Linked DNA regions of Homo sapiens. The protein of the gene in region 4 purifies or fractionates together with the protein of the main gene of each other region. This does not show direct contact. Each region holds a gene or a part of one and is shown on either strand. Other genes may lie near its edges.

The links. Proteins that work in one complex are often made in the same cells at the same time.
Region 1: the proteins of RYK (region 4) and FREM2 purify together in Homo sapiens (affinity purification with mass spectrometry; 2 studies listed by BioGRID and IntAct, with this or other methods). This does not show direct contact.
Region 2: the proteins of RYK (region 4) and PCDH9 purify together in Homo sapiens (affinity purification with mass spectrometry; 2 studies listed by BioGRID and IntAct, with this or other methods). This does not show direct contact.
Region 3: the proteins of RYK (region 4) and CDHR1 purify together in Homo sapiens (affinity purification with mass spectrometry; 2 studies listed by BioGRID and IntAct, with this or other methods). This does not show direct contact.

The regions. Positions count from the first base shown.
Region 1 is NC_000013.11:38,692,876-38,698,039, reverse strand, and holds part of FREM2 (FRAS1-related extracellular matrix protein 2 precursor), read right to left. Parts: intron 343-5,164; coding exon 253-342; intron 1-252. UniProt on the Homo sapiens protein: Extracellular matrix protein required for maintenance of the integrity of the skin epithelium and for maintenance of renal epithelia. Required for epidermal adhesion. Involved in the development of eyelids and the anterior segment of the eyeballs.
Region 2 is NC_000013.11:66,897,374-66,902,537, reverse strand, and holds part of PCDH9 (protocadherin-9 isoform 1 precursor), read left to right. Parts: intron 1-5,164.
Region 3 is NC_000010.11:84,210,836-84,215,999, forward strand, and holds part of CDHR1 (cadherin-related family member 1 isoform 1 precursor), read left to right. Parts: intron 1-165; coding exon 166-330; intron 331-812; coding exon 813-880; intron 881-1,343; coding exon 1,344-1,572; intron 1,573-1,732; coding exon of another isoform or gene 1,733-1,747; exon of another isoform or gene 1,748-1,790; intron 1,791-2,255; coding exon 2,256-2,513; intron 2,514-3,246; coding exon 3,247-3,786; 3' UTR 3,787-5,164. UniProt on the Homo sapiens protein: Potential calcium-dependent cell-adhesion protein. May be required for the structural integrity of the outer segment (OS) of photoreceptor cells.
Region 4 is NC_000003.12:134,205,342-134,210,505, reverse strand, and holds part of RYK (tyrosine-protein kinase RYK isoform 2 precursor), read left to right. Parts: intron 1-676; coding exon 677-811; intron 812-2,980; coding exon 2,981-3,034; intron 3,035-5,164. UniProt on the Homo sapiens protein: May be a coreceptor along with FZD8 of Wnt proteins, such as WNT1, WNT3, WNT3A and WNT5A. Involved in neuron differentiation, axon guidance, corpus callosum establishment and neurite outgrowth.

The sequences.
Region 1 (5,164 bases), on a different chromosome or scaffold from region 4:
ATACAGATCTCTCTCTTTAGTGCTTTACAAATAGTAAGACAAAAGTGATATAACTAGAACTTTTATCTATAGCCATGACATAGTAGGATTGTGTCATAGTGAGATTGTAAAATTGTCTACAGCAAATACCAGGTTAAATTTAGGTGATCATGAAATATTACTTGATGAAGACTTCTTGTAATAATGTCATCAGAGAGCAACCAAGAAAAGCGTCTCTCCTTGCGGTCACTACCAGGAGAGGGGAATACTTACCACCATCTTCAACTGCAAAATAGAACATATCACTTGTGGCATTAGCCCCTTCTCTTAAGACATAGCATATTTTCATGTCATCAATGTCAGCTAGAAAATAACCAAAAAACAAGATGATTAATTACCAGAGTAAAATTGATGATTCATTATGGTAAATTTTATTGGCTATTAGTTTTCCTATAAACATGTTTAAATTCCTTTTTCCTCCTAACAGAAACAGTGCTGTCTTATTTCTCAGATCTCTAAGCCCCTAGATTTCAGCTGTCCCATGGACACCTGATCCCTCACACAGATAAATACAGTGCAAGAGTTAGTTTATAATAATAGCAAGGTGTTTCCCCTCCCAGTGGTATTTGCATGTTCATGCACCAAAGGAATGACTGTCTAAATATGGAATGTCAGGCACCATGACAGGTGGAAAGGAAGATATTTTGAGGCATGGCAGATTTCCTGGCACTCTTGAAATCACATCCTTTGCCTCCCAGTAGGGAACTGGCCCGCAGAGGACAGAGCTTTGCTCCCCAACACTGGCTAACTTTTCTTACTTTTTGTGCTGTAGCAGGCTATTTTTTAAGCTCTCCAAAGTTTGAGAGAAAAAAATAAGATGATATTTTCAAAAAATCACACACATTGAAATAACTGATGACTCCCTGTTGAGAACAAAAAACATCTAATAAAAGTGGAAACGGGCTGGACACGGTGGCTCATGCGTATAATCCCAGCACTTTGGGAGGCTGAGGCAGGTGGATTATGTGAGGTCAGGAGTTCAAGACCAGCCTGGCCAACATGGTGAAACCCTGTCTCTATTAAAAATTGGCTGGGTGTGGTGGTGCGTTCCTGTAATCCCAGCTATTCGGGAGGCTGAGGCAGGAGAATTGCTTGAGCCTGGGAGGCAAAGGTTGCAGTGAGCTGAGGTCGCACCACTGCACTCTAGCCTGGGCAAGAGAATGAGACCCTGTCTCAAAAAAAAAAAAAAAGTGGAAACCTTTATTCATGGCAGAAAGTTATATTGCCTCAGAAATGTTCCTTATGTTGTTTCCTACTTTATCAAATTCACATGCATACATTTGTTTTCATTATGAAGACACAATTTTTAAAACTTATTCATCCATCTTACCAGTTCCTTTCCTTAATGATGCCACACATACAACATAATAAGAAAAAAATCGTTTTGTTCTGTGATACTCATAATAGATCATTAATTGATCTGGGCCAATCAGTGAGTTTCTAAGACTACATAAAGTCAAGATCATGGCTAAAAATAGCTATGACAATGATAGGTAATATTTATCTGTCTAGTGTGTGTTCTATGGTTTTTTCATCTCCTAAAAGCTCTAGTAAGTTCATGCTATGGAATTCAAAGGCTTATAAAGAAGACAATGGCTTTATGAAATGTTAATCTCAAGTGAGGCAAGGCATTAGGATGGACCAATGATGCCACAAATTTCTATAGCTCCACTTTACAGATGTAAAATGTGTGGTCTACCCTGGCTCATAAAGTTTTGAAAGGTGACTCATTATTAGGAACACTTGCAGAATGGAAAATCTGATTTTATAGTTAATGGTACCCTCCTGCTAATAGAGGTATTTGGAGGTAAAACATGCCTAAGTCGCTTGATTCTCCCTTAGCACTTCATTTGTTTTTTAAAACAAAATATAGATATGTGGGTCTCACTATGTCGCCCAGGCTGGCCTCAAGCAATCCTCCCACATCAGCCTCCCAAAGTGCTATGATTATAGGTGTAAGCCACCTAGCCAGGCCCCATATTTCTAACTCTACTATAACTTTCCACACTTGCTGCCTAGTTTCACTTTTATCTTTCTGTATGGTTATCTTTCCCAGTAGATGAAAAACTTCTGGGATTTTTTTTTCCTATCTTAACTTCCCACAGCTCTTTGCTTAGGATATTACAGTAGCAAAGGCGCAAATGTTTCTCAATTTAAAATGAAAAGGCTGAGTAGGTAGATCACACTTGTATCTCTACCTTTGCATGTATGATGTTTCTGCCAGGGTAAGAACTGAAGCCCCTACACAACTCTTTGCCTGTTTACTGTTATAATTCTTAATTGTATAACCTTCACTTTATCAGTAAAAAAATGCAGTAAACTCTGCTGACTACACATCTTTACCACAAGAACCATGACCTCTGGCCATGTGGAGAAGACCCTCTTCCAATGTTCCCACCCCTTCAAATTGCATAAGAAAATCTAAAGGCTCTACTAGGAGAAAAGGCACTGTTTAGCATGCCCAGCATCTGTATCAATGTTTTCTTAAGCGAAATTGTAATCGTTAAGGGATAGTTTCATTGAAATAAATCCTCACTTCAAAACAGAATTTTAAGAACTTTTCTTTTTTCAGATAAAGAAAACATAAATGCAACTATATGGCACTCTGGTACCCAATTTTCCCTCCAAGTTAGGGCATGTGTTATTGATTAGTTGGAACATACTAAAACCTTTTATATTTTTCATATAATTAATTAATAATTCATGGTTCAAAAAAGAGCCTCTAAAAAAAGTAAGTAAAGACTTTCATCATCATACTGGTATTCTAAAGGCACCTCTACAAATAACATAAACACACGTTACATATTTATGTATATATAAATGTAATAACGTCTAGCTTTCTTAAGACACAAAAGTAGTAGAAATATAATCTAATAGCCAAAATGTAATCTTTTTAAAGCAAATATCTAAGAATTATCTAGATTTTCTTCTAGTTGTTAAATATACATTAAATTTATTTCAGTTTATCTACAAAATTATTCCATGAGATTTTTTTGTTTGTTTGTTTTTAATTCTAAGTTCATTAACATATCAGGCAGCCACATCTGGTTCAAACTCTTTGAAGACATTTCTGCTTTCCTGAAACTGGCTTATAAATTATCCCACAGAATATATCATTACGTACTTATTGTAGGGAAGAAAAATCCAGGTACTTGAGACATGCAATTTAGATCTGGGTTAAGGGGAACAGGGGCAACTTGGCAAAGAGGTGAAGTTTGAAATAAATAAATGATATCCATAATTTACCTAATTATACATTGTTAACTTTTCATCAATTTAATAAGTTTTAGAAAGGAATTAATTTTTTTCTTCTAGGAACCATTTAGTCAATCAATTTAGGAATAACCTTCTCTAGCTACCTGTGCTAAACTGACCTAATTCAATGCATTGAAAATCCATCAAAATATAGGTTTACCTTATCCCTTCATGATAAAGCAAAAACAAAAAGAAATAAAAGGACTGCATAGTCTTCACTCTTAAGCACTGCTTTCATTTCTCCTAGTGGAAAAAGAGCCATGGTAGCTTTCTGATGGCGCTTTCTCCGTTTTTTAAATCACTTATCTAATCTCCATAAATAACAGCTACGGATCAAAGTCTAGCCTTGACTTGTTTGAATGAGTGCCATGTGATTGAATACCAACAGCTTCCCTAGTCAATATTTTGGTTTATATTGGAATGTGATAATTTTCCTTAAAAATTCTTAAAAAGTCACATCACATAATAAGCATAACTTCTCTACATTTACAAAGATGACAAAAATTAATCATGGTGACTCAAAGTCAGTAAGAGAAAGAACAACTGCCTATAATGAAATAGCATAATTTTTAGAGTTCAAAATTTCAGAAATAATATTCTAATATTGTGAGCTGTTGGACTTAGTCCACAGAATTTAAATTAAATCATTTGCCTGTCTTCATCAAAATAGTCCTTTTAAAAATCTCTAAATCAGATTTCTTTTTCAGGTCAGAGGAGTAATTTGAAGAACCATTTTCTATTATCTAATATATTCCTTTCATTCTCTTCCCTCTCCATGAAAATAAACCAGTGTAAGACGGCATGGCATCGCTAGCCTCAGAAAGCCTTCACATAAAAGTTTCCTACTGGTCTGGCATGACACTTGGCACTTTGAGGTTTTCCTGTCCCTGCAGGCCCTGGGAGACATTCAGGCTTTTAGCCAAGAATCAGGAGGTTGGAGTGTGGAGCTATTTGCCAGCACCTCAAACAGAGAAGTAGTCCACTTTAACAGTGCATTTTGCTACTTCCATGTTTATTAAAGCATTTGTTATCTAAGAGTACAACACAGTTGCAGGAAAAGAACACCCCCACTGGGATGCCCTGGGGTTAAGCTCCATCTCTACCCATGGATCCCACATAGGAAAGATCTAGTGTCCATTCTGACATGGTGAGATTTTCATGAAAGCAACCCAAATCCCACTGTAATGAAAGTTGCATGTTCTGCAGAACGGAGCCCTGACTCCCAAGCCAGTATAGTGAATGGGCTTCTCCCTTCCCTCACTAAATAACTCTGCATAGGACACTTGTCCTTTCTGCCTCAGATTGTGTCCACCCACAAAGGAAATTCAGGTTAGAAAAATCCTGTTGCCTAAAGACCGCAGGTGCCTGAAGCAACTGTTTTTTGTCACTGTGTTTGCAACAGGTCAGAGAGGAGGTTCACAATGATGAAATAATTTCCCCCTTCTAATATTAAGCTTGTCTACTTATCTTCATGCTCTTAATAATGAATTAGATGTATATTTTGGTGATGAACATATTGTTATTTTACACATCTTTAAGTATACTTTCCTTTTTCATGTATATCCTAGTAGCATGCCCTGTAAATATCATTGTTATAACTCTAGATAGGTGTTTATCAATTACGTCTCTGGATGAGTATTTGCCTGTCATGAAATATTATTAACAATTTTAAAAATCAACAAAGTAAATAAATGTAAACAAATCTTTTAGTTACAAAGTTCCTAACAACTATAACCGTGTCAGAGCAATGCTCTTAAAATTTATTCAAAGTAACCTAAGTTTGAAGGCTTTTTTGGAATGGTAATTGATAATGACAGCAATGTGAATAAACAGTATTTAGAAAGCACATCCTTCATTAAGGTGCCAAAAT
Region 2 (5,164 bases), on a different chromosome or scaffold from region 4:
GTCCCCTCCATTCCCTTCAAACCTTTTCTTAATCATGATTAGTAAAAAAAAAATTGTAATAATTATTGCTTTTGCCATCTAAAGGAATCTATTATTTTCAAAAATCCCACTGGTAATGTATATTGAAGAAACTACTTTGATTAATATAAACTTAATATAGAAAGCAACTTCTTTTTAGATAAAACATTAGTGGAAGTTGAAAGAGGATTGAGCAATATTTCGAACAGCTCTATCCCCTAATTCTCTGCATATTTTTATTCTATTTCTTTTTCTTTGTGTGGGTCTAAATACTTAGAAATGATTTTCTAAACTTCAGCATATATACTTTTTTATATTTTTCTTTCTTTTTTTATCCAAAGCCTAAATCTCTTGAACATTGAGAGAAGAACCATAGTTTCCAACCCTTTGATTTTTTCCTCTTCACTGTGTATGTTTCAACTATCTAAGATAATACAATTGTTCCCATTAATTACCAACAATAACACAATAGTTCTAATTGGATGGCAGAGAAAAATTTTTTCTCATAAGTAAAGATTAAGGTAAATAGTACAAAACCCTACCCAGGATGTTGTGCAAGTCATTAAGATCCAAGTGGATTTCAGATTTCTAAGAATTATATTTATTTTTATAACATTTTATGTTTGTGTTTATTGACTTAACCATACTCCTCAGAAACCATATTCCTCAGAAAATCCCTTTGATTACCAAAGGTGGTGAGATGATTTATTGGAGATTTTCGTATTTTTCGTAGAGAATATAAATGAGACATAATTCAAATAATTTTCTATAAATCATACTTTTTTCTCCCTTAGATATTTTATAAGGTCCGAAGCACAGGAAGACAGCTTGCACAGGGTTTGACTAAAGGTCTAGGGAATTTGAAGAAAAAAAATGACATCTAGAGTTATGATGTTTATTTATATTATTAGTCCATTTGTGAAAGAACAGTGAAAGTAAATCTACTATAGTTTATTTATAAACAAAGAAGACAAAATATTTTTATAAATCTTTCATTCCGTAAATTCTCATTTAACCATCATTCTCCAGGCCCATTTTCTCTGAATGGTTTTGAACTAGGTTGTCTGGAAGGTCCTACCCATCCCTGATGATCTGTGATACTAAATAATGATGACGATATTGACAACTTATGCTTATTTAACAGCATAGTTTTCTACAGTTAAATATCTTTCTGTGTTAAATAGTACCTCATACTCTGTGCTAGGGACTGTTTCAAGAAGTTTATATGTATATTCTCCCATCATTCACATTTTGTCCTTGGTTAGTCTAAACTGTTTTTGATCATAATACATTTAATTTCTTTAACATGCATTTTGTATTAAATTCAGAGAGACAATATCTGAAATTTCTTATAAAATAAAACTTGAAGAAAACAGATAAGTGATGTCATCTTTCGAGTTTTTTTTAAAACATTCTAAGATGCAAGGTTTCTGTATAAATGCTTAATATCTGTAGACCAATAATAAAATGGGCAGTTTTAGTAACCACTTTTTTAAGGTTATTAATCTAGTGTTAATTATTCTTGAGAATTAACAATGAAAGGTGATTATAACCTACAAAATTGGCATCTGAAATGTTATTTTTCATTATATTTAATTCTGTACTGAGCCTGGTAAGTGCAGGTATTTTCCTAATTTTTATTTTTTCACAATTTATATTTCCCCTCCCTTTTAATCACCTTAATATAGTAACAAGAAAGATGATTGTTCTGTTTAACACACACAAATATTTAACTGTAGAAAACTATACTATTAAACAGAGTCATGTTCGGTGTCAATGAGTGCTGACTAATCTGGATGAAATTCTTAAATTTATATTATGACACTAGATACATAATAAAACCGAGACTGATGTGACCAGCAAGCTTTTAATTATTATTAGCTTGTTATTAACCTATCACTCTTAATTTAGATGTAAGAAGTATTGCTTACTTATAGAGAAATGTTATATCAGCTATTGAGAAAAAGTTGTGCCAGACCCTATTCTAAGCACGTCATATGCATTATAATAATTCTTCTCATCTACCACTAGAGTATAAACATGCTACAATTTTATGTACTGCTAGGGTAAAATGCTGCCAATTTAACTCTGACAAATGCTTATTTTTGATTTCTTTAATATTTGTCCTGTTTTAATACATGCAAAAATAAGGGGTTTTTAATATTAGAATTGTTGGAATATAGCTTATTTAATTCTGACAGCAATCCCATTAGGTAGGTATGATTATTATTCTTATTCTACAGATGGGAAAAGGAGACACTGAGAGGTTATGTAATTTGCTCAAATGCACACAGACAGGAATGAGTGGGCTGGAAGATAGCCACAGCCACATGGCTTCAGAAACTGCAAAGATAACTATGCCATGATATTATCTAAGTAACAGCAAACAAACAAAAAACCTCACAGGCTATTTGATTGTCAGAGACCAGAGATTACCTATGCATATTACTGAAACATAACGTGAAGATAACAGCGATTGAGTAGCTTGCCCTACCTCTCAGAGCTAGCTAGTGATAGCATTAGAATTCGATCCTAGAATTACTGATCCCAGAGTAATCTAAAGACTTTACCTTCAAACACAAAGTTTCCAAACAAATGTTAAATAAAATAGTTTATACTTGAAGTTCTTTCTTAAACTAGATTTTAAAAATGGTGTGGAATTTAAACTGTCATGTTTAAGTTTTCTCTCCCTGACATACCTTTTGTCATTGGGTACACAGAAACATTGCAATGATTAAAATCGAAGCACCGGAATAAAAAAGTGCACATTGTTTTTATGCCATAAATGCATAATGCCTTTAATAAGCATTTTTGATCCGTATTTCATTGTCACTTTGTTTCTATTATATTTCATTCCCTTTTCCCATGAAACAGTATATAATGCAAGCAGAGCTTTCAGTGTCTGTATTCTGCAATCTGTAGGAAAATGTCTCATAGTTATTGGAATTCACACAAGACTGCATCTCAGTATGAGTAGCTCTTCCCTGTCACTGTTTTTGATGCTTGAGCTAAAGAATATTTTACAAAATGGTTTAGTGTTCAGTGTATGAATTTTTGAGATAGGACTTCTCCCTTGTAGGGGTGAAATCCGAAAATCAGTGTCAGATGGAAATCTTAGCTCTAAGAGTTAGGGAGATTGGTGGAAGGGTTTTAAACTAACTGTGAATTTTAGCCTCTAGACTTTGGAAATGTGGCAGTTATCATGAGTATGAAATTCATGGATGCAGATGGTTGATTAAGATATCCCAGGATGGGCCACTGCTATAAATCTCCACAGAAAAATTGAGAAAACCATTTTGATAAGGAACATATTTTTGACCTTTTATGTAAATTCATAACACAGGTTTTGCTGGATTCATTAAATGCGTATAAGTGAAATAACCATTGGTTTCATAAAATTGCCAATTGAGTCATGTGATAGAAATATTTAATAGAATTAAAATATGTCAAATGGTGAGTAAGAGGGGTGCGTGAGAGGAGAACTCCCATGTATTAAACTATTATTATGTGTCTTGTATTTCACATTTTCTACCTAATTCAAGACAACTGTCTTCAAGGTAAGTCTAATTTCCCTCCACATTAAGATAAAGTTATGGGTGCCTAGGTGATCTTGAGCCTACATCACCAACCAAGGACACACTGATAGCTAGAGTACAACGGGGCTCAGTTTGTTACACAGCCTAGAACTCTATTGTTTAAATAATACCAAATGGAGCAGGAGCAAAATGGTAACATTATCTGCTACTTTTAAATAATAAAATAGGAAAGATATAAAGCCAAAACCCTTTTGCTTTTGTCTTACTTGGTCTTTTATTTTCTTTTTAAAAAAATATTCATACACGAAATCTGATTTAGTGTATGAATATTATACGACACACCTTTATTTTCCTGTTATTGCTGTATTATGAATATTATACCACATACCTGTATTTTCCTGTGCTTCATGATTATGTAGTCATATTACCCAAGTATATTTACATAATTATGTACAAGCACACAAATAAATATGTTCAGTCCTTAGAATAGGTGTTCTTGTTGATATCAGCTTTAAAACTAAAATAATTAGGTAAATCATTTAGCAATAATTCTCTGAAGATTTTTACATTATATTTTAGAGTAATAAAGTTATTTACAATTAATAGATATTTACTAATAACACTAAATTTTTTCTTTCTTCATAAAGACAGCTTTTTGGAAAACCCCAAGGCTAGTAAATGACACATATACACACACATATATGTTATTTACATACTTAAATACATGCATACATATTTGGGGAATAACTCCTAACATATTAAAATATTTAAATTGTTAGTAACATTGCTCTCCAAAGTGCAATAAATTAAGAAAAATGATAAGCAATATTTTACATCTCAGTCACTGTGAAACATTGCATATATAACAAGTATTAGAGAAAGCATGTTGGGCATCAGTCTGGCTCACTCACTAGATAAAGAAGTTTTTCACCCTTTTACCATGAAGGTTCCAAAACTGCACCTCAGAAAAATGGCAAATAAAATACATCATGGACTGGAGAATTGTTAGAGTTAAGTCCTGACATGCCCAACTGGGAATAGTCAAACATCTTATGCCATTTTAGGTAAGATTGACCTGGAAAATAATTTCTAACAAATCACAGGACAATTTCTGGCTACAATTCCAAATAGCATTTAGGAATCTTTGCACTTAATATAGATCTGTTATGTGAAATGTGTGTTATATAGAGATAAATTTTCAAAAAAATCATTAAAATATTTGACAGGCTCCTATTACTTGCTAAATAAGCATATGTAAATTTGTAACAAATTACCAAGAATTTAAAGAACTTATACTGCAGTAGTATAGAAACACTACATACACTCATGTCTAATGCCTATGTATAATACAATTTTCTAGAAACATGAATGTTGGTTTATTTCAGACTATTGAACTTATGCTTGAGAAAATTTTGTGTTAATTTTAAGAGGGATGTAGGCAAATATGAAAACAGGCATATTTGATCAACCCTCTACTACATGTCTCTGCTTTCTGATGTGAATTGATTTCATTTTTTAAATGGGGCCATCAATATGTTCCTTAAGTCAAGTAAACATGGATAGGGTACTAGACATCCCTTCCTCTGTTTTTTGCTCACAAACACAAAGTT
Region 3 (5,164 bases), on a different chromosome or scaffold from region 4:
CAGGCCTTAGAGGTGACCCTTACAGGAATAGCTGGTTGGCAGCTGCGAGGAAGATCGGGAGACACGGCAGATGGATGCCACATCAGTCCTGGGGAGATGAGGTGGGAAGGCTCTCTGCAGCATGAGTGCCTACCCAGACAAGTCCCCATTTTCCCCCCTTCCCAGCTCCTGGCTGTTGAAGTGAACACCCCAGAGAAGTTCAGTTCCACAGCGGATGTTGTGATCCAGCTCCTGGACACCAATGACAATGTCCCCAAGTTCGACTCCCTCTACTACGTTGCCAGGATTCCTGAGAACGCCCCAGGGGGCTCCAGCGTGGTGGCTGTCACAGTGGGTTGGGCACTGGCCCAGGGACTGGGTGGGATAGGAGGCCTTGTGAAGCCAGACAAATCTGGAAGGTCATTGCAGTTTGAGTGGCAGAACCCACACTCATTAGCTGTCCTTGGACAAGCTACTTGCCCTCTCTTAGCCTCAGTTTCTTCATCCATATGATGGGTATTACAACACCTCACAGGACAGTAATGAGGATATATGTGTAAACAACAATCACAGGGCATGGGACCCATCCCCTCTTCCTCATTTATAAAGGAGGGATGAGTGTTTTCCAGATCTAAATCTCTTGGCTCTTTCAATACTTAAAACTTCTTGGAGGAAAACTAGGGATCCCGGGCAGGTCTCTCCACCAATTTCTCCCCAGTTGGGCAAACCCCAAATCCCCTTGCTTTGTGGTTGAAAGCAACCCTCAGGGCATGGGAGCTGCCAACATACCCTGACAAAGAGGCACGTGCCACCCAGGGCTCTTTCTCTTCCAGGCTGTGGATCCAGATACAGGACCCTGGGGCGAAGTGAAATATTCCACCTATGGGACTGGGGCAGACCTGTAAGTAGATCCAGAATCCAGGACAGGGCCTTGGGCAAGGGGATTGGAAGGCTGAGGGTGGAGGAGGTCTGTGGCAGAGGCAGGAGGGGCCTGGGAGGGACAGGAGCCTGGGTGAAGAGAAGTGGAGAGAGGCAGTGGAAAGCTGAAGCAGAGGGTGAGGAAGTTCAGGGCCCAGGACCTCAGGAGCCAGGCAAGCAGGGCTGGCTGGGGAGGGGGCAGGCCATAGGAAGAGAGAAAGACTATAACTGGAGTTGCTAAGCTGGATAGTGATAGATGGGTGAGTCCACATGTGGATCTACCTCACTTAGATTGCAAGGATAGGAGGGAGCAGGTAGGACACTTTGGAGGAGCTGCATGACACCTCACTCCTGCTTCAGGAGGCAGCTCATTATTGCAGGCATGTGTATGTATGCACATATGTGTATATGCGTGCACACCCATGCCTATGTGCTCTGCCTGGCAGCTTCCTGATCCACCCATCCACTGGGCTTATCTACACCCAGCCCTGGGCTAGCCTGGACGCTGAGGCCACTGCCAGGTACAACTTCTATGTGAAGGCAGAGGACATGGAAGGCAAGTACAGCGTAGCTGAGGTGTTTATCACACTGCTGGATGTCAATGACCACCCCCCTCAGTTTGGAAAGAGCGTTCAGAAGAAGACGATGGTGCTAGGGACCCCAGTGAAAATTGAGGTAAGTTTTGGAGGCAGCTGAGCTCCCCTAAAAGCCTGGGTCCAGCAGCTCCAAGAGATACTGAGGCATAAGAATTTCATTGAAGATAAAATTTTTTGGCTTCCCACCATGGACAAAGGACTTTAAGACATTTTGTATATCCCCATCCCCACCTCAACAGAGAATTAAACTCTGAGAAAGAAGATATTGCTATTCAACAAATGAAAAAAACAGGCCAGGTGGGTTAAGTGTTTGGCTTGCCTTCACATAGCTGGTCTGCCTGCTTTTCAAAAGAGTGGTTTTCTCACCGCACTTTGTCATTTTGCCAATGTGGCAAAAAGGATGAACTCTGAAACCCAGCAGACTTGACTTTGAATCCTGACTCCCTTTCTTATACCTCTGCATCCATGGGAAAGCCACTTTGCATCTAAGCTTTCATTTCTGCATCTGTAATATGGATTCACCAATATTTGCTTCCTAGACTTGTTCTGATAATGGAATCGGCTAGCCCATGTGTAAGACCTACGTAAACCCTGGCTTATAGGAGAGCATGCATTCTGTTCCTTTCCCAACTCAATCCTCTCAAAATAGGATCAGGACCATTTCCCATCAACCCAGCAAGCCCCATATGACGTGCTGATTTAGCCAGAGTACACAAGGATTGTCCCCAAAGCCCAGCTCTGTCTGTCTCTCCCTGCGCACAGGCCATAGACGAGGATGCAGAGGAACCCAACAACCTGGTGGACTATTCCATCACCCATGCAGAGCCCGCCAACGTGTTCGACATCAATTCCCACACGGGGGAGATCTGGCTCAAGAATTCCATCCGCTCCCTGGATGCCCTGCACAACATCACACCTGGAAGGGACTGCCTATGGTCCCTAGAGGTGCAGGCCAAGGACCGGGGCTCCCCATCCTTCAGCACCACAGCCTTACTCAAGATTGACATCACAGATGCTGAGGTGAGTACAAAGCCATGGTCAGGAAAAAGGGGTCAGCAGGCCAGCTCAGACCTCTCTGCAACGTGGGCAGAGCGAGAAGGACCATCTCCAGGCTTCCTCCAAAAGACACTCAACGTTATCAAAGGCAGCCTGTGCCATCAAACACACAGTCTTTGGAAGCGGGTTGAGTTTCTAGTTCAATACTTATTAATGGTGTGACTTTGGGCTTTGCTAAGCCTCTGTTACCTTTCCTGTAAGATGGGATAAGGATGCCTCCTTCACACGGGTGTTGAAAAGCAGAGTGAAGTCATTATGTGTAGCTCTCAGCTCAGTGTCTGGCAGAAAACTAGTCACTTAAGAGACTCCTGATACATCTGGGCAGATGGACCCCCTCCCCCACTTGCCACAATCAAAGGCAAGTGATCTCCTACCATCTCAAGGACAGACTCCAGCTAAAGCAGGAGTTCTGAATCCAAAAGAGGTTGCTCGCATTGCGTTCTGTCTGAGCATATTGTACCAGAGAGTGGTCTGCACCATGCTGGGTCTGCGTGCATTTTTCTGGAGAACTGCATGCATCATGCTCTCTCTGTGTGCATTTTCCTGGACAAAAGCCCATAGTGCCTATCAGATTCTCAAAGGGACTCCTGACTCCAGAAAGTTTAAAAACCATTAGGCTTAAGGAAGCACATACCTACTCTGTACTCCAGGGACCAGGTGGGAACAGCTGAGTGCAGGGAGTGGCTTTCTCTTTCAGACCCTCTCCCGGAGCCCCATGGCTGCCTTCCTGATACAGACCAAGGACAACCCCATGAAGGCCGTGGGTGTGCTGGCCGGCACCATGGCCACCGTCGTGGCCATCACTGTCCTCATCTCCACCGCCACCTTCTGGCGCAACAAGAAGTCTAACAAGGTCCTGCCAATGCGGCGGGTGCTCCGCAAGCGGCCCAGCCCTGCGCCCCGCACCATCCGCATTGAGTGGCTCAAGTCCAAGAGCACCAAAGCCGCTACCAAGTTCATGCTCAAAGAGAAACCTCCCAATGAGAACTGTAACAACAACAGCCCAGAAAGCTCTCTGCTCCCGAGAGCTCCGGCTCTCCCTCCACCACCCAGCGTGGCGCCCAGCACTGGCGCAGCCCAGTGGACCGTGCCTACTGTCTCTGGCTCTCTCACTCCGCAGCCGACCCAACCCCCGCCAAAACCCAAAACTATGGGAAGCCCCGTCCAGTCAACTCTGATCTCTGAGCTCAAGCAAAAGTTTGAGAAGAAGAGTGTGCACAACAAGGCTTACTTCTAGTGTATGCCCTATGACCCCCCATCTTTCCTCCGCCCCTGACCCCCACCACCCTGCTGCTCGGACTATGCTCCCCTTCCTCTGCTCCTTAAGGTCACTGACCCCTGTTTTGCACAATGGTATAATCCCCACTGTCCTCATCTCTACCGCCACCTTCTGGCGCAACAAGAAGTTGCGCTCTGACAGGGCTCTAGTCAGGGCCTTGGGCAAGACATTGGGCTCTAGGATGCAATTGGCAAATACGTCCCCGTTACTCAAATCCTTGGCACTACTACAATGCCCTCCATTCTTCAGGGCTGAGAATTGACGAGAAGCCAGCTCACCCATCCCAGACCTCACAGTCCCTCAGGTTCTACTGGGATCTCATCATCATCCTTAGTCAAGCAGCAGGGCCCTGGCCACGTGGAGCAACACTGACTAGAATCTGGATCCTGACGCCTGCAGCTGAGAGCAGGAGCAGGAAAAGGAGGCTCAGCACTGTCTCAGGCTGGAGGTCAGCGAACCTCGTGGGCTGTAGGAAAGCAAATGTAGGTAAGGGGAGAGCAAGGATGCACAGAAAACACACTGACTGTGGGACTGTGCCAGGATGCATTTGGAAAGATAGAGCATTCTGTCTGGGCAGAGACTGTGGACCCTGGTATGCCCACGTGGGACAGAGGACACAGAGGTGGAAGATTGATCTTGCCAAGAGTGAGGGCAGATGTCTCCAGCCAGGACTGCCCTGAGCCGCAAAATGTCAAAGCTGGAGCTATAGAGGTAGCCCTAAAGGCAACTAGAAGAGCATCAGGGCTGCTCTCTGAGGAGCTGCCCCACCAGCCATCCTTGAAGAGACAATTCAGGGCAGTTGATGAATATCAGGGCTGAGATGTGGTGAGACTTCCGTTTTTATCCAGCTCTTTTGCTCACATCGCGTAACCTTGGGAAAGCTGTTTAAAGTCGCTGATCATCCTCTTCCTCATCTGTAAATGAAGAAAGTAGGCCCTGTCTACCTCACATGCAGGTCTAGGGTGAGGATTGAAGAAAATAGTGGTGATGAGGGCTTTAACCAAGTGCAAAGCGGCATGAATGCAAAGTATTTTTCTGCAGCCCAGTTCTGTGGGTGCAGCTCTTCCAGAAAGTATTAGGAGCCTCACATCTACTCTGCCAAGCGCCCCAGCAGGCACTGTGCTGGGCTTAGGGGCTACCACTGGATGATGGCATTGCCGTGACTCACACACCTCTACTTCTGTTCTTCCCTCACTCCATCCCCGCTACCGTCCTGGCCAGCTACCGTCAGAGAGAACCAGAGCTCCAAGTCTTTAATTTGCCAAGATGAAGAAAATGAGTTCTCAAGGAGGGAATGCTTTGCTTGAGGCCACACAGCAGGTTGGTAGCAAAGATC
Region 4 (5,164 bases):
GCAGTAAAGGAATTTAGAAATGCCCATATCTTTAATGCAGTCATACAGATGGTAGAATGATAGGTTTTAAATTTGTAGGAAAAGAATCTTAAAGATTGGGGAAAAAAATTATATGCACTGAAGTCTGTTATCCCATTGTTACAATTATGGATTAAAATCAATTTCTGTTGAGAAAGGTGATAGCTGACAATTTATCAGATTCATTTACAGGTTTATATTTAATCTTTTTATTAAGAGCAGACATACTTGCATTTTGGTAGTGAGTTGTCTTTCCATTTGATCATGTAATTTCTGTTGTTACTATTGCTGATGTGTCTGTTAAGGTTTGCCTTATGATCCTTCAGTTTTAGTGTACTGGAATAGCAGGACTTATGAGACAAAGTGGTGTATTAAAAACAATGAGCAGAAGTTGAAAACAATTATCTCTTCATTGATGTCTTGGTTTGTTCTTTAATACTAACTTTTATATCCATAATGAATTAAATGCTTAATGTCTAGAGGTGTGGTAGTCTGAAGATCTCTAAAAACTTTTGTTTAGTTACTTTATTTAAATGTATTACTTTTAGTTTTCTTGCAGCAAAAATAAGTAATTCTAAAATGTTTAAAAGAATCATTTTGGGGCATTAATGTTGATTTTTAGAAAATGTAAAATATTTTTCTTATCTTTTTTAAACAGTGTTTCGGGTAGAGCTTTCCTGTACTGGCAAAGTAGATTCTGAAGTTATGATACTAATGCAGCTCAACTTGACAGTAAATTCTTCAAAAAATTTTACCGTCTTAAATTTTAAACGAAGGAAAATGTGCTACAAAAGTAAGGAATTTATTTACCAAAATATGTTTTACATGTATGTGAGAAGGTGAAAAATAGAGTTTGTTGTTTTTTCACAGATTTAAGTATGTCCAACTCATGATTATAGTTGCAAGTGAGAAAAGAGCACTGGCAGGTGAAGTTTTGAGATAATCCCAGATGGTTGGTAGCCAAGAATCTCACTCAGGCCTCATTCAGTCCATGCTTTCTCAAATCTTTTGTCAGAATTGCTAAGATGTTTTCCATTAGGAATAGTGCTAAAATGGTTGAAGAGGTAAAGAAATAAGAAAAATCTGTTGGGACTTCTGAGTAACTATGTTAACTGTGTTTCCCTTATCAAGTTACTTTTATGCAGAAGCATTGCTCTCGGGTGAGATAGACCTGGGTTGGAATGGCAGCTCTGCTCTTTTCAGGATATTGATACAAGTTACTTAACCTCTCTGAGGCTTAGTTTTTTCATCTGTAAAATGGGCATAATACCTGTTTCAGAGGTTTGTTGTTTTTTACGGTTCATTAAATCTAGCCTAAAACTTAGAATACCGTATGTGGGTACTTAGCAAAGTTAGTTCTTTTTGGTTTTGAATTATCTGTTACTGAAGAAATCGAGTGGATATGAAAGAGTTCCAGCATGCTAGGTCATAAATCAAAGAATTTTAGAGTTCTCCTTACAAGTTTAGTCCAACCCACTCACTGTAAGTTCCACAAAGCTACAGTGACCCAAATTTACAAGGTCACGTAGGTAGAATTGGTTAGTATCTAAGATGGGGGGGGGAAATATACTTTAAAAAAACCTCGCAAACCCTCAGTGCTTACTGTGTTCTAAGTGCTTGATAGGTATTACACCTGTTTAATCCCTACAGCAACCCTAGGCAATGGGTTCTCTCATTGTCTTCATTTTCAGAAAAGGAAGCTGAGCTTCAGAGAATCTAGCTTGTCAAGATCAGATAGCTAAGTGGTGCAGCTAGGATGCAGACCTGTTCTCTCAGCCTCTTTGTTAAACTTTCTTTTAATAAATTTCCCAATTGAAATCAGTGCTGAGTGTTATGAAAACACCTAAGGCCAACAAGTGAGTTGAATTGGCTAATGTCTGGGTACATGCCAATAAAAAAGCTGCACTACATTTGAATAGACATTTTAAGAAAGAAGAGTTAGCATCTTTCAGCTTTAGTGTTTTGGTACAATTTTCAGTTCTACTATATTCAGTTATATACCAACTTCCATGTAATGTTAAAGACAAAGGAGATTTCAGAGACTCTCTACTCCAATGTAGTCATTATATATTTGATATAAGGAGATTGGACCCTTGGCCACCTAGGCTACCACAGCTAGCCAGTGAGGAGTGTAAAACATTCAGTTCCTTATCCTCAGAGAGATGGGCATGACTGTACCATGGTGCTTCATCTGTTACTCTTAAGTAAGGCAGAATGATAACCAGACATGGTGTGGCCTCTGGATCCCACCAGTGCTAATATCTGCTAAGGTTAATGATCAGCTGATACTCAAAATGGTCACATACTTTCTCCATTTTCTTTAATATGTGTGTGAAATTAACATTAAAATTCTGTGTTGGAGTAATTTTCTATTCTGTTTTAGACTTAAGTTTTTCTCTGGCCCTCTGTATTTGTTGGTCATGGTTTTGGCCACCCTAGTCATCCAGTTCAGGCTCATGACTCTTACTTTATTATGTGATCCTAATGTATTTATTTATCTGGTTTTCCAGCCTACTATATTTCAAAAACTGTCTGCAACAGAAAACATCTGTACTATATGGAATGTTAGTAGGTGTTACTAGCAAGAAAAGTTTCTTTTATCATATGAGGATGGGAATTATGGGTTAGACAAGTTTTGTGACCCCATAACTCCTTTCAGTCTTTATATTCTAATGTTCACTGTGAAGCTCCAAAGAGACACTATAGTATGTGGCTTTTCCCAAACTTCTTGATCATAGGAACATTTTCACTGAGCATCTAGAAGTAACACCCTTTGGCTAACAGTGGTATAGACTATTGATTGGTGACTGTAGTGGTGATTATCAGAATAGTAACATAGCTTTCATTATCTCGCAACACATACCTGTTGCTGAGTTCCAGCAATGTTCTGATAATTATAGTAATTAAGGATTTTCATGGAAAAGAGAATTTCTAAAGCATCATTTTTCTCCTTTAAATTCAGAACTTGAAGAAGTAAAAACTTCAGCCTTGGACAAAAACACTAGCAGAACTATTTGTAAGTGTTACTGTATTATCTTTATCCATTATTAGAAATGAAAAATGGTTGACTGCATATAAACATGATTGCATGAAGCTTGGAGGCCTCATGGTATCAAATGATAATGACACCATGCTGTTATTTTGCTGGTGCTTTGTAGACTGGTGGATAGGTCATGAAACTGTTAGAATATTGAATATTTTGAGAACTAAAATTTATACGTATTTTGTAACGAGTAAGCTAAAAAGTTTTACAAGCAAGAATATCATATATTTTTGAGTAGTCATAATTAAAGTATGACCATGAAATATGTGTAAGATGTTTATTAGCAGAGGGTTAGAAAATCTGGCTTGCAGTCTGGACCTAATCTTAAGCTAATTTCATCCAGGTGAAGGTGTAAGCTTAAAGATATTATGTTACTTAAACCTACAGAGCAGGTATGCAAAGTAGATTTTTATTTTTTGGTATCGGTTGTGTTTAGATATTATTACAAACTTCTTTTTTTTTTCTGACATGAAGACATCGTTGGGTCTTACTCTTCTTGCGGTAGTGTTAATAGCAGTATCTTAAAAGGATACTAGATTCTCTTCATGCAAGTAGACTTTAAAAAATTGGTTTTGAAAACTTCAAGTATATAAAAGTTCAGAGTACGCTTTGATGAACTCCCATGTGCCCATCCCCCAGCCTCAGTAATGATCAACACTTTGCCATTGTTCTTCCATTGATTCCCTCCTTTTGTGGTTGGTTAGGGGTGGAGGAGAGTATTTTCAGGCACATCCCAGGCATCAGATTATTTCACCCATAAATATTTCAGTGTAGATCTCCTTTAAAAGGGCCTTTAAAAAACCCCCACAATCACCTAATACCTATTCATTTTGATTTATCACATATAACAAAATTAACAGCAGTTGCTTAGTATCTCCAATAGATAGTCCATGTTCAAATTAACCCGATTGTCTTTAAAATGTCTTTTTTTCCTCCTGAATCAAGATCCAAATGAAGCCTACACAACTGTTGGGTGATATATGTTTTGTATTAATCAGAAACCACCAACCCTTTTATTAATATTATTTATTTATTGAAGAAATTATGTCATTTGTCCCATAGAATTTCCCACATTCTGCATCTTCCTGAAATCATTGAACATGTTTGTTTGTTTGTTTTTCTGTAAACTGGCAGATAGATTTTGCACTTGATTAGATTTAGAACCAACTCTTTTGGTAAGAATAGTCCATAGATGGTAGGTACTCTGTGCTGCCTATTTTGTCTTTTCATCACCTTGGGAGGCACAGAGTATCTGGATGTCCCAAAGGGGAATTTTTTTGCCTGTAAAATAATGTGACATATCGTCTACTTGCTGGAATATTTCTGAAAAGAAAGAAAAAACATTAAAAAAAATGTCACTGTTGCCAAAGTTTACTTTTAAAATTCTGGTGACTTTGCCCATTTCTTTTATGCTAGTAGGATATTACTTCTCACAAAGAGCAGTACTGCATATTCTTGGCCTCTGTCTGTGTCTTCCTTGCTGCCTCTCATCTTCCCGCCCTTTCTATTTATTCATCCACCCAGTACCTATGGAGAGTCTGTGGTGTGTTAGGCGGTATGACTGAAGCAGAGGACTAAACTGTGAGCAAAGAGATCCTTTCCTCGGGGGTTTATAATGTAGTGGGAGAAATAGACGAGGCAATATAGGCAATGATACCAACATAGCATGGCAAGCTATGATAAGGCAAGCACAGGGGATTTGGGAACCCAAGGATAGCTTCCTGAGAACAGTGACAGCTCTTCTGAGAGCTGAAGGGTGACCAGATGGTGGCAAATGAAGGATGAATGAGGGAATGGGAAAAATGCATAGGAAAGCCTGGAATTTGGAGGTAATTGAGCAGGGCGCATCTAGGGGGATCTGCCCAGCAGAGCCGTATCCTTGGCTCTGCTCTGGAAAGTGCTTGGACAGTACTGCTAACATATGCCTCCAGAATTCAGAATTTTTTTCTGTCCCTCCCAAGATTGAATAGCTTTCCTGTGGCATAAGGTAATTCTTGATGAAAGTCATGCCTTCATTCAGGCTACAGCCAAGTCTAGCTGCCCTAGAAGTCATTTGGTCTCTACGTTAATCTGTTCTGATTTATTGTTTGTTGATAGGAAGGT